Homo sapiens: one gene and its partner. The protein of the gene in region 1 purifies or fractionates together with the protein of each later gene. This does not show direct contact. Each region holds a gene or a part of one and is shown on either strand. Other genes may lie near its edges.

Region 1 (7,110 bases):
ATGGAGATGTGCTAAGTGTAAAACACACACCAACTCCAAAGACGGTCCCTCCAAAAATGTAAAATACCTTATTGATGATTGTTGTTATTAATGTTGAAATAATACTTTGGATCTGGCAGGTTAAAAAATGTATTGTTGAAACTAATTTCACTTCTTTTTGCTTTTTAAAAATATGGCTACTAGAAAATGTAAAATTCTCTTTTTGTTTGGTTTTTAGAGACAGGTTCTCACTCTGTTGCCCAGCCTGGAGTGCAAACGTGATCACAGCCATAGCCGCGAACTCCTCAGCTCGAACAATTCTGCAGCCTCAGCCTCCCAAGTAGCTAGGGCCACAGGTACAAGCCACCATGCCTAGCTAAATTTTTTTTTTTTGGTAGAGACAGGGTCTTGCTATTTTGCCCAGGCTGGTCTCAAACTCTTGGCCTCAAGCGATCCTCCTGCCTGGGCCTCCCAAAGCATTGGGATTACAGGCATGAGCCACCACATCCAGCAGAAAACATAAAATTCTGTGTGTGGCCCACGCTGTACTTCTACTGGCCAGCACTGGTACAGATCAACTTGCCTTAACAACTAAAAGAAGAGGAACAGAGAGATAGGGGCCTGGGAATGGGAAACGTGGATCAGTTCAACACATACAAGCCACACACTCTGTGCCCTGGAGCTGCCCTGGGGAAATCAAGTCACGTATATAAACAAACAGTTCATAACAATTTCAGGCAATTCTGGACAGTGTGGAAAGTATTGGTTTTAAAAGTAATACTACAAAAGCAGAGAGCAAAATGCCCAACAAGACAGTAACAATCCTACCCGTTTCTGGTTTTGTTCTATTTGTTTTATTATAAAGCTCTTTCTAATGGGAAATAAATGCCTCTAGAATGAGGTATGTGATGCTAAGTTTGAGAAATCAAAAAGTTTGTGTTCAGGCAAAAGATGGGTGACTTTTTAATTCTATTTTCCTTTATTCCTATATTGTTTTTAGTATCAAAGGAGGGAGGGATCGTCCTTCAATTGCCTCAAAATTGAAGGCAGCCAAGTAGATCATTTTTATTTTCTAGCAACTTAAAAAGTTGAAATGTCTTACTAAGAAACCCGAGTTCAGAAGCATAAACGTGAAGTATCAGAACTGTGGTTTTCTCCTGCTGTCCCCACGTAGAGGGGCTCTTCACAGGACAGTAGGCAGCCCCTTCAATCACTTCCAAATAGCAAAAGGGACCTCACGTGTGCAAAACTTCTTTATGTACTGTCAGGTGGGACGCAGTCTCAGGAAAGACCCAGAAATCCCCCTCATGATCACAGAGTCTCAGCCAGCTTTGGGAGGTGTCAGCCTGGACACCTGAAGATGAACTGTCAAGGCAGCAGCACGCCTGGTCCTCCTGGGGGTGTGGAGGACAGCCCAGTGACAAATCACCCTCAGGTCACACAGAGCGGCTTCCCAGCACACATCCACTGCCTCCAAACGCCTGCACTTGTGCCAGATGGCAGTCAGGAGGGGCTTGGTTCCCATGGATACTCCTACAACAAGTTGGGAGGGGGCAGGGAGGGCAAAACTGTCACCCCACTGAGTCCTCACCCATAGTGCATTCAACAGGTGGGGCCACTGGGCAGGGACAAAAGCTCCCTACAGGCTGGCACAGATGAACCCCTACCAAGGAGGCTTCCAGACATGACACACACAGCTAACACAGGGAACACACCTGCGCCCGCTCCCGCTGAGTTGACCACACCAAAGCTGCTGTCATTTCTCACACTTGACTTTAAAGCCGAAAACCAGATAGATAGTTACACACATCTGGCTAAGAACGATCATTCTCTGGCCAATAATTAAGCTGCATAATTAAGAGGAAACAGGTATTTCACCACCACCCTGTATTTATGTGGCAAAAGCTACAAATGCACTAAGTCCTGTGGGCTTTCCAGTAGTTTCCAGATTCAGATCCTTCATTCACATTGATTTCTAGAATTCAGAACAAAGTCTCCTCTAATTCAACTCTGTCTACCCTGAGGCCTGCAAGATAACAGGAACAGACAGGCCAAGAATCAAGTACCAAACTCATCAACTAAGTCCCAGCCCAAGTGCAGGTCTCTCCTTCCCCAGCCCAGAGGGGCCCTGGGTAGTTACCTCTGGAGCCGCTGCACGAGCTGGGCCACCATGGTGTCGGAGATGCCAGGGCACGCCTCCTCCGCTAGGTAGATGGCCCCTCGCAGCTCTTCAATGGACCCCAAGTTCCCTCCGCACGCCTGGCTCTTCTCCTTCAACTGAAAACACACGAACAGGAAGAATGGCATGAAGCACACCAGCTGCAAAACTGGGAAGCATGCTGTTCAAGGAACAACACGGCGTGTGGACCACGACACTACCCCAGCCCCAGGGTGTCCGGGAAAAGCTTTGGCTAGGGCTCCAGGCCACTTCAAATTGCTTTTTTTTTTTTTTTTTTTTGTGAGACGGAGTCTGGCTTTGTTGCTCAGGCTGGAGTACAGTGGCGTGATCTCAGCTCACTGCAACCTCCGCCTCCTGGGTTCCAGCGATTCTCCTGCCTCAGCCTCCCGAGTAGCTGGGATTACAGGCCCCTGCCTCCATGCCCAGCTAGTTTTTGTATTTTTAATAGAGACAGGATTTCACCATGTTGGCCAGGCTGGTCTTGAACTCCTGACCTCAAGTGATCCGCCCGCCTCGGCCTCTCAAAGTGTTGGGATTACAGGCGTGAGCCACTGTGCCCGGCCCGGGTTCCTTTTGAAGAAAGGTGATTCAAATGCTCTGAGAGCAGTTATGTATACACAGGGCAATCATCAGACCATAATCATTACTGTTCGAGGCCAGAACAGAGACGACTAGCTCTCTGTGTGCCTTTCCCAAGTCTCACCGTGATGGACTGTCCTCTCTGTGCTGTTTTCCTATTTCAACCATAACCTTGTACCAGAAAAGCAATTTCAAAGCCTATCCTAAGTTATTCTGATCTCAACACTGCTTACTTCCTAATGTTAATGGGTTGGTTCTTAAACTCCAGCAAACTGCCTTTGTGATCCAGAGTAGAGTCAAAATATTTGATTTCATGTAAATAAGTGGCAGCCTTAAATTCTGGGAATCTCCAGTGTTCTTCCTGGCACCTCTACTCCCAAGAGAAATCACAACAGTGCCTTCAGACACTTCCCTCAGTTGAAGGTCAACTCCAAGTCTCTCTCTGGAGGCCCAAAAACGTGAACTGTGAAAATAAGAGCTGTTCAAGTCAAGATACAGCATGGCTCAGAACTCAACAGAAGAGGCTCTTTGTGATGGACACCGCCTCCTCTTCAGGGAAGAAAGAAACATCTCAGGCGACATTCAGCTTGGTTTTCAGGTTGTTGAACACATGCTGTCATTTCCAAACCCAGCCCTGCCCTAAGAGCAACGGCTTCTCTCTTCGCTACTGAAGGGGCAGGCAGGAACTAGAAGGGTCTGACCTTGGAGGGCCAGTGGGTGTAGAGAGCATTTGTTCCTGAAGTTCTTGCTGTCACAGGGCCACGCCGCCGGCCCCGAGGCGGCCACTCGTGTTTGTCTAGGACTCCCAATCACTTGACAGTATTTACAAGTCCCGAGAGGGTCAGCTACAATCCAGCACTCTCCCTCCTGCCCATGCCCCGCCCCTAAGTCTCAAAGAAGGAGCAAAGGCGGCAGAAGGGCCGCCCTGGGAGAGGGCCTGTCCCCTTGCCGTGTGGAACGTGCTGGACCCATCACTGACTTCAGGGAGCAACCTGACCTGTGCTCCCTGAAGGAAAGCAGGGACGCCAACACCCGTCTCCTCAATGTCCTCATCTGTAAGCATGGGGATATAATCCTTCTACTGGGCTTCTACAAGTATTGTATGAAATAATACACAATAAACACTCTGAACTCTAGGGTAGCAAATATCATTCTTAAAAATACATTGGGAAAGATGCCTGTGAGTTTAGCAATTGGTTACCTGGAAAATCCAGGATATGACGGCGTTTAGGATATGTCCTGAATAATTATGTCAAAGTTGCTTCATGGGCCCAGTAAAAAAATAAACAGCCTCAGGAGAATGAAAAAGTCCATGCACTTTCCCTAACTGCCTGACTGACCCTATTCCAGCGGCCAATGGCAGGGCCGCAGGAGCACAGCCTGGAAATCCCACGGGGCCAACTCCCATGGGACAAAATGAAGCGCAGGATGGCGCTCAACCCGGACATCCTAGTTAGGAAGAACACAGGTGCCCAGAACCATGAGCCAGGGCTGAAGCCAGACATCATCCAGCAGGGCCTCCGCGTGCCCTGTGGCTTCCCCGACACCAGCGGGCTCGGCTACTTCCCACTTGAAGCTGCAGGTGAGGCCTCGGGCTCTGGCCACAGCCCTGCTCCCACCGGGCCCTGAACTTGCCAGGTCAGAGGCCCTCAGACAAACCCTCCAGGGCACCTGCTGGGCAGGGCAACAGGTGAAGGCTTATTGGAGGGCTGGGAAGAGGCACTGGCAGGACCGTGGCTGGCCAGGCACGGCCCATGGCCGGGGGTCCCCCGCTGCGTGACGCAGGCACAGGGGAGGAGAATGAGCTCCTATGACACTTCCTCTCCTGAGCACCTCCCCTTCAAGGACCAGGACCCCTAAACACAGCCGCAGTGGAAAACTGCCCAAAGAGGGAAGATCCCCACGCAAACAGATGCGTGTGTGGCCCACAGTGAGTACCTCAAAGGCAGCCTCAGCCAGGAAGGGGCACAACAAGAAAAGAGGGGACTTCCAACTTATTTTCAAATCCGCTACTAACCAGATGCAGAACAATCTTCATTCTTATAAAGCCTACTTTTGAAAATCTCTCAAAACACGGCCACGGGAGCACTTTCCTCTGGGAGGGAGAGGCTGAGCAGGGAGTGGGCGTGGGGAGGCCCAGCTGGGAGCACAGCACTGCTGAGCAGAGGAGGGACTTCAGTGAAACATGTGGCTCAGGGGAAACCGGAGGACTCCAGGGCATCCAACGTCTCCTTAGAAGAAAGAATCTACTTTTCACATGGCCAGAAATTGGTCTGAGGCAAAGAGAGCAGGCTGTACACAATGAGATTTGCTAAAAAGCAGGGCAACGGGTGACACAGGGTCTCGGGCTGGGTCACTGTCATCCAGTCTACACATTCCAGGCTGCGGCGGAGTGGGCATCACCCAGGACAGGGGAGGCGCAAGGTGGTGCTGACAGCCTTTGGGAAGGCACCATGCAGGCTTTCCGAGCCTTTGCCAGCTTGTCTTAATGTCCCCAACTCTTAACTGGCAACATCACCACTGAAGTGTGTCCAGCTTCTCCTTCCCCCTCCCCTCCCACTCCGAAAAGGCCAGCCAGGTACCTACCTCTGCAAACAGAGGAGAAATAATTGTAGATAAACACTGAGAGAAAGGCCTCTTCGGGATGTCTTTCATCTTGGGGGAGAGGGAAAAAAAGGTCATCAGAAACAGTTGACGTTCACATTGGCAATAATTTAATAAACCTCCCACCTGGACTATGGAAGCGCAGGAGTTGCCTCTACACTTCACGCTGAGGAAACACCCTCTGCGCACCATAACATCTGAAGGAGACTATCGGCTGCCTCTCACTAGACTTCAAAGTTTCATCTGCAGTGACATGCAAAACCCACGCACCGGGGAAACCAGCATCTGGGTTCCATGTGGAAGGGGACTCTGTGTGGGCACAGGCGGTGAACTGCCTCGTCTTGCTATCTACGCAGAAGTGCTTTACTGGTTGGGCGTGGTGGCTCATGCCTGTCATTCCAACACTTTGGGAAGCCGAAGCAGGAGGATCACTTGAGCCCAAGAGTTCGAGACCAGCTTGGGCAACATAGTGAGACCATGTTTCTATTAAAAAAAAAAAAAGTTTTAAATAAACTGGGCGTGATGTCACATGCCTGCAATCCCAGTTACTCAGGAGGCTGAGGTGGGAGGATCACTTGAGCCCAGGAGTTTGAGGCTACAGTGAGCTCTGATGGCACCACTGCACTCCAGCCTGGGCAACAGAGACCCCGTCTCAAAAAAAAAAAAGAGAGAGAGAGAGAGAGAGAGAAAAGTACTTTACTAATGAAACCCTGGAAATAGAAATCAGGTCAAGATTGGCCATTCCAATGGCTGTCTAGGACAGAGACCGAGTTTCTACTTTTGCAACCTCTATTTGGACATTTAACACCTGTTCACTTATCAAAGCGGGACTTGTAGGATCAACAGGGGACAGCCACTGGCCCACCCTGCCTGAAAGAAACTACACCACTATGCTTTACAAGACCCTAAATATATGGCCTTTCATAAATTTAACAGGCATAAAACCAATTAATCAAAATTGTTTTACATAAATATCAAAAGCAATGCATTTACTTATAAGGTCCTTAAAACTCAGTCACAAAATTATGATATGTATGTAAGTAACCGCAACATGCACAACAGTCCCTCAGAGCTATGAAGTCATTTCACGGGTCACCCCCAAACCCCATGACATTGCCACATCGGGACATCCTAACTCAACAGCAGGGCTGCAGAGAGCAGAATAGAGTGGCACAAAACAGACCAGAGGCCAGACTCCCTGGTGTGAACACCTGGATCATCAGACAGAACTAAAGCTCTTCATCTGCCCATCCCCTAGCAACAAAATTCCAGGACAGCTGCCACAAAGGACCCCAGCCGCACCCACAGCAAGCTTCACACACAAGTGCCTCCAAAACACTGCAGACTGAGGTCAGCGTGGCCATTCTGGAGTGAGCAGACGTACCTTATTTCTGTCCAAGTCCGATGGCTGAAGAGCTCCATTCTCGAGATTCTTGGGATCTTTTTCTCGGATTGTGAAGATCCAGTCCCCAGAATCACTGCCCCCCGAGGCTTGGCCATCTGTTTCCCTTAACACAGAAATGCAGGAAATCCCATCAGTGCTCGCACACCTGCTCTGGGGGCGCTGGGACGTTCAGGGGGAGGCCGCCTGGGGACCTCTAAACCCACACCCACCAGCCCCAAGTCCCCACCCATCACACCCTTGTCCAGTCCCTCTGGGATTTCCCAAAGACCCCCCCGCCTCCTCCCTCACAGAGAAGAGACCATCGGGAGGTGGTTCCACAACTCCCTGGCGTGCCAGTGTGTGCATGCCCACCCTCCTCCTCCTC
Region 2 (7,000 bases), on another chromosome or scaffold:
AAGCTGCACCTGTTCTTGTGATACACGAGCTCCTGCATAGTTATAATTATGCCTTATTTCATTCCTAGTGTTTTATGTGCCTTCCATCTTTTCTTCTAGATCAGTTTTGTTCACTATTATTTCTTTTCTAGTAACTTTTCAGAAAGAAAGGAAGGAAGGAGGAAGGGAAAAATATATAAAAGCTCTACTAACGCACCCATTTTAAAAACTAGATACTTCATTAAAACTGATAGGCTGTCTTTTAAAAATCATTCTGTCCAGCAATTTTATTATTAATGAAGACTATGTTGCTTCAAAACAATTAAAAACAACCTTAATTAAAATTTAACATCTTTTAAATTCACATTTTCTTTTAACAAGTCCAGGCAAAGTATCGTCCTTTCAAATTAATCACGGCAGTGTCCAAAATCATGGCTGAGAAAAAAGACTGTCAGGATTACACAGGGAAAGTTATAACCAAATTATATTCCCACGAGCAGTCTAAGAGAGAATTTATTACATTCTTGACAACTCTGGGCTTTCATAATTTAAGAATTATGGAGTTTTATTATATGTTTTATATTTATTTATTTTATTTTTTGAGATGGAGTCTCACTTTGTCACCCAAGCTGGAGTGCCGTGATACGATCTTGGCTCACTGCAACCTCTGTCTCTCTCAGGTTCAAGTGATTCTCCTGCCTCAGCCTCTCAAGTAGCTGGGACTGGGACTACAGGCATGCAATGCCATCCCCGGCTAATTTTTGTATTTTTAGTAGAGATGGGGTTTCACCATGTTGGCCAGGCTGGTCTCGAACTCCCTACCTCAGGTGATCCACCCACCTTGGCCTCCTAAAGTGCTGGGATTACAGGTAGGAGCCAACTTGCCCGGCTTTTGTTTTATATTTAAATTTAAATCAGTTCATGCTTACAGTGATTATCTCTAGAAATTGAAATAGGAAATTTGCATAATTTCTTCTTATACTTTTGAATGTTTCATGACATGTCTGCACTACTTGTTACAGCAAATGCAGAAATAGCATTTGCTTCTATTTTCTTTTTTTGTTCTTTGAGATGGGGTTTTGCTGTTGCCCAGGCTGAAGCCCAGGCTGGATCACGGCTCACTGCAGCCTTAACTTCCTGGGCTGAAGAGATCCTCTCACCTCTAGCTTCCTGAGTAGCTAGACCACAAGCACGCGCCACTATGCCTAGCTAATTTTTAAATTTTTTTTTTTGTAGAGACAGGGTCTTACTACATTGCCCAGGCTGGTCTTGAACCCCTGAACTCAAGCGGTCCTCTTGCCTTGGCCTCCCAAAGTACTAGCCACTGTGCCCAGCCAAGCATTCACTTCTCAGGGAAGGTGTAATACACAATATAACATTTGCAGTTACCATGAAAATAGAAATGAAAAGTTATTCATGGTAACCAGCAGACACTGCATGTATATGCAGAGATAGTTTTAAATAACATCTTGCTTTGCTAGTACTATACATCAGTGTCTTAAACATTTATTTATAATGTTTATCGATATCTTAAAAAGCACAGCATATTCTTTGGTTAAAAGATTTACATACATATCTGAGAACAACAGGAAAATTTGCTGGTCCAAATGTATGTGAAACTTATCCACTTCCCTGCTTTGAAATTTTAAGTATAAGGGAAGGAGGAGGAAAAGGCCGAGGAGATGCAGAAACACAGGTCATATGAATCTAGACCCCAGCTTACCAATAGTCAATCTCTGCTTCCATTTACCTCCTCCCAAGATGTAAGCACACATATACATACCTGTCCATCTACTAAAGCTGTAAGTGGAAGATAATCAAAGAGATCTGTAAAATATTTCCAAACGTTGGCATTCCCATACTTTCGCAGACATTCATCATAAAAGCCATATACTTGGGTAATTTGTCGGCTTTCGTGATTTCCTCTCAATATTGTAATGCGTTCTGGATAACGCACCTGGAAGAAAAGGAGTAAAACCCATAGTAAAATCACATTTTTACTAGTGTCATGTGAAGTACACCAGTCTCTGACCCATTTTTAAACACGGCGCTTTTGGCCACCAGTATATTAAATGTTAATTTCAGTTTCAAAATAAAAAACTTGCTTATTCATAACCAGGTCTTACTGGTTAACATTTGACGTGTTTATTATAATCATCCTTTTTCATCAGGTTTCGACAACCCTCATCAGAACCTTTAACTAATACTTATATTACTATAATAAACTTGTATCTGATACTTTGCTTCTATTATCTTCATCATCAAATTATTACTACTTTCCTAAATCTTTCTAGAACACTATGACTTCTTACTGCTGAATGAGTAGTGAAAATCACAGGTTTGAAGCTGAGACAAACTCTACAGATTAACTTCTTCCCTTTTCAATTTTTATTTCCCACAGGAAGATTGGATTTGCCAATAATAACACAAAAACAGGCCCTTGACAAAACTGGGCAAGATTTCAAATGTATTAATAGTTTCCTTTCTATTAAAAAACATAAGCGACTATTTAGTTAGGAATGCATCTGATAAGAAATACGAAAAAGCACTGGATTCTGCAAATTAAGCTAAAAGCTGCAAGTATGTACTTCAATTCATACATATTTTACTAAGCATCCGTTATGTGTCTAACGTAAGTTTGGTGCTATAAAGCCAGATGCCAGATCTACACAAGTACAGTCATGTGCTGGGCAGCATTTTTGTTAACAGATTACATGTACGATGTTGGCTGGAGCAAGAGACTATACCATTACAGCCTTTGTGTGCAGTAGGCTATACCACCTAGGTTTGTGTAAGTTCCAAAGATGACAAAATCACCTAATGGCACATTTCTCAGAATGTATGCCTGCAGTTAAGTGACCCATGACCATGTAATATATGGCTTCTGCTGTTGAGGGACTAACCTCACTAAGGACATATGTAAAATAATAAGTAATAGAAGGCAATAAGCCACTTTTGCAGCATAAATAAGGGCTGGGAGAATAAGTTTCCTCATAGTAATTTAGAGCAGAAGGAATAAGGCTAAAATGGTTGAAGGTTACATGGAGGAAGTGAGACCTGAGCTGAGTCTTGGCAGAAAGGTAAGAAATCAGGGACAGGATAACCTCGTGGGGGAAATCGACTATGGAAATAAACAGAGTCCAGAGCACTGAATAAGAAGAAACTTTGATTTGAGCCAGAGTTTATGCTACCAACCGCTGGCAGGCAAAAATTCAGACTAGACTATAGAAGGCCAGGCAAGGAGTTTGAATTTGATTCTATAGGCAACAGGCAATCAACAGGAAGTAACAATATAAAAGGGTTAAATAAGAGATTTCATCGGCCAGCGTATGCCAGGTGGATTTGGGGGGGATCAGATCTTGGAGGCAGAAATATTAGTTACTAAGCTATTGTAACAATCGAATTGTGAAGTGATAAACTGTGTGAAAATAGAAAGAGACAGGAACAACAGACTTTTCAAAGCAAGGATTTAAAAAGACTTGTCTACTGACTCAATATAACGGATAAGTGATAAAGTCAAATATGATTCCAAGACTTCAGCTATGGACTACTCGAGAGAATGATACATTTATCGGGAATACACAGAAGTTATCCTTTTCACCTCTCCTTTAAAAAGATGTAAAACCAATTATTATTTTAAGGGGCTATAAACTGAACAGACCATAAAACAGATGATATGCAATACTGTCATTCTTGCCTTTTGCCTGGTTTAAATCTTGAAAAAAAAATTGAATTTCAATAATCATACCTTTAATGCTACAAGAAGAGTCACAGTCTCCACTGAATAATATCCTCTGTCTACATAGTCACCCATGAATAAGTAGTTTGTATCCGGTGATTTTCCACCAATTCTAAAGAGTTCCATAAGATCATGAAATTGACCATGCACATCTCCACAGACAGTAACAGGGCAACGAACCTCTTGCACATTTGATTCTTTTGTTAAAATTTCCTTTGCCTGTTAGAAAAGTGAAATCAACAATTACAAAGTTAAAACTATCATTTCTTATCTATTAAAAGAAAATTTGGGGAAAAAAACACTTGAAAAGTGCCTTATAAAAGCGTATGTGAAAACCAAACCACGAGATAACACTTTCATTAGAAAGGCTATAATAAAAAAGACAGTTAATAAGTGTTGCAAACATGTGGATAAACTGGAACCCTCATACACTGCTGGTGGAAATGCAAAATGGTGCAGCTGCTGTGGAAAACTGTCTGGCAGTTCCTCCAAAGTTAAACCTAAAATTACCATGTAATCCAGCAGTTCCACTCCTAGGTATATACTCAAGAGAAATGAAATCCAGTTTATACATGTTCATGGCAGCATTATTAATAACAGCCAAAAAGTAGAAACCACCAGATATTGATCAACCGATGAATGGACATAACATATTCATACAATGGAATAGTCACTCAGCTATGAAGAAATGAAGTACTGATACATGCTACAACTTTGAAGACATTATGGTAAGTGCAAGAAGTCAGTCACAAATGATCACATAATGTACAATTCCATTTACATGAAATGTCCAGAATAGGCAAATCTTCAAGGCAGAAGGTCTGTGTTTTAAAAAGAATAATCTTATTATTCACAAGTTTAAAAAGGTCAATGAAAGAAAAAAGTCACAAATTATGCAAATTCTTGTGTGAACAAACATTCTTACACCAATTCATAGGCCAACCTTGAATTTCTTTATTCCAATTATTTTATATTTATAGAATTAAGTTAGAAAATACCATTAGGTGGCCCTGAAGTACAGAATTTATGCTTAAACACTGGCAAATGAAATGTTCTGACTAAATCGAAGTTCACTAATGGCTCATCGATCTGGCCTCTCTGCCTAATAGCAAAAGATCCCAGAATCAGGAAGAAAAATTTAAAAGCCTCTGAAGTAACAAAACAGACATCATAAAAATGTATCTAACCCACCAGAAGAGACTCTCAGGCCTTATTCTGGGCCTACTGTTATCTACAAAATTCCAACAAGCTATTTACCGAGTTTCCAGGTCCATGAGAAATTAGAAACAGAAAACCACGAAAGCTAAGAGATGAGAACTGGGACTAATACAGAATGCAAACCGAGAGGAAGAAACAACCGGATGGCTAGCATAGCTAAAACACAGGGCAGCCTGGCGCGGTGGCTCATGCCTGTAATTCCAGCACTTTGGGAGGCCGAGGGGGGAGGATAGCTTGAATCCAGGAGTTTGAGACCAGGCTGGGCAACATAGTGAGACCTCTGGTCTCTATAAAAAATTTAAAAAATAGCTGGGCATGGTGGTGTGTGCCTATAGTCCCAGCTACTTAGGAGGGTGGGGTGGGGTGGGAAGACAGCTTGAGCTGGGGAGTTCAAGGCTGCAGTGAGCCATGGTCGCACCACTTTGCAGTTAACCCCGGGTGAGAGTGAGACAAAAGAAAAAAAAGGCAACAACACAGCACAGTGAAAGTCAAACAGGGCCGGGCACGGTGGCTCATGCCTGTAATCCCAGCACTTTGGGAGGCTGAGGCAGGTGGATCACGAGGTCAGGAGATTGAGACCATCCTGGCTAACACAGTGAAACCCCATCTCTACTAAAAATACAAAAAATTAGCCCGGCATGGTGGCGGGCGCCTGTAGCCCCAGCTACTCAGGAGGCTGAGGCAGGAGAATATGACATGAACCTGGGAGGCGGAGCTTGCAGTGAGCCAAGATCGTGCCACTGCACTCCAGCCTGGGCGACAGAGCAAAACTCAGTCACAGAAAAAAAAAAAAAAAGTCAAACAGGATGAAGCTTAAAGTAAAAGCAGATGACAGCTTAGACTGGTGGGGGAGAGAGCACAATTTTAGGGACAGACAGTTCTCTGCCTCTTCAGTGATTTGATAATCTGAAGAGTATTTAAAACATGGATTTTGAGTTTCACTGTATTTCCTGCTACTCTGCATTTTTGTCAACAGACTTTAACACTAGTTGAGGGATACTCAACCTGTAGCGATTTTCAAAACACACAATAGTTTGTACACACACTGTAGGAATCACAAAGTTACTCTAGCCCCAGATTACTTTATGCCAACTAGATGCGCCCAGCCCAGACTCTTAATTTGAAGCAACTCTAAAGAGCAGGGACAATGGCAAGTTCTATTCCAACAGAAGTGTTCTCTCTAGTGTTCTAAATCATTTCTAAGGTATGATTCTGACTGCACCTCTAACCTCCCTTAATTTCTGCAAAATGCTCATGCTTGGTTCTCCAGCTTTTCTTTTGATTCTAGGCTACCATGTATTCTTCTACAAATGCCTTTTCTGCTTATAGCCTGGTAGGATTCCCAAGAGTTATGGACAATGTAGCCCATACTTTCTTCTCCTTGCTTGTAATTAATTAGAATGAGATTATATGCAATGAAGTCTTCCAGAAAACATGGGTTCTCTTCAGTTTTAATCTAATTGTGTAATCTTAAGGCCTTTATACCCTTCAGTTTCTTTTCCTGAGATCACAAATTAAACAATAATTTTACCAGAAGCCAAGTTTATTCCACAAAACAGCTCCCAATACACCACAAACATTCTGCACACCACATATTTTTTGCATATGAAGAACATGGCTGAGGAGATTATATACAGAAACATAATGGTTGTCTGGGAGGTAGGAGGGCAGGGGACAGGAATGGTGGGTAGAGTGCATTTGCTTTCCTTGCTACCTTTCTGAGGTGCTTGCACAAATTTTCTTTGAGACAGGGTCTCGCTCTGTTGCCCAGGCTGGAGTGCAGTGGTGTGAACGTAGCTCACTGCAGCCTCAAACTCCTGGGCTCAAGCAGTCCTCCCACTCAGCCTCCTAAAGTGCTGAGATTGCAGGTCTGAGCCACCGTGACTGGCCAATGCTCGAAATTTTAAAAAACAAATTCTGTATTACTTTTTCAAACGGAAAAAACCTGGCTTCTTAAACTTCAAAACAAATTCCAGATGGCAGTAATTATAAAATATCCACACAATGGAATTTTATTCAGCCATAAAAAGGAACGAAGTCCAGATACATGCTACAATATGGAGG

The links. The genes of interacting proteins can lie anywhere in the genome.
Region 2: the proteins of STK24 (region 1) and PPP2CB purify together in Homo sapiens (affinity purification with mass spectrometry; 5 studies listed by BioGRID and IntAct, with this or other methods). This does not show direct contact.

Annotation. Positions count from the first base shown.
Region 1 is NC_000013.11:98,455,049-98,462,158, forward strand, and holds part of STK24 (serine/threonine-protein kinase 24 isoform b precursor), read right to left. Parts: intron 6,850-7,110; coding exon 6,726-6,849; intron 5,393-6,725; coding exon 5,324-5,392; intron 2,257-5,323; coding exon 2,120-2,256; intron 129-2,119; exon of another isoform or gene 1-128. UniProt on the Homo sapiens protein: Serine/threonine-protein kinase that acts on both serine and threonine residues and promotes apoptosis in response to stress stimuli and caspase activation.
Region 2 is NC_000008.11:30,795,819-30,802,818, forward strand, and holds part of PPP2CB (serine/threonine-protein phosphatase 2A catalytic subunit beta isoform), read right to left. Parts: intron 3,938-7,000; coding exon 3,728-3,937; intron 1,937-3,727; coding exon 1,763-1,936; intron 1-1,762.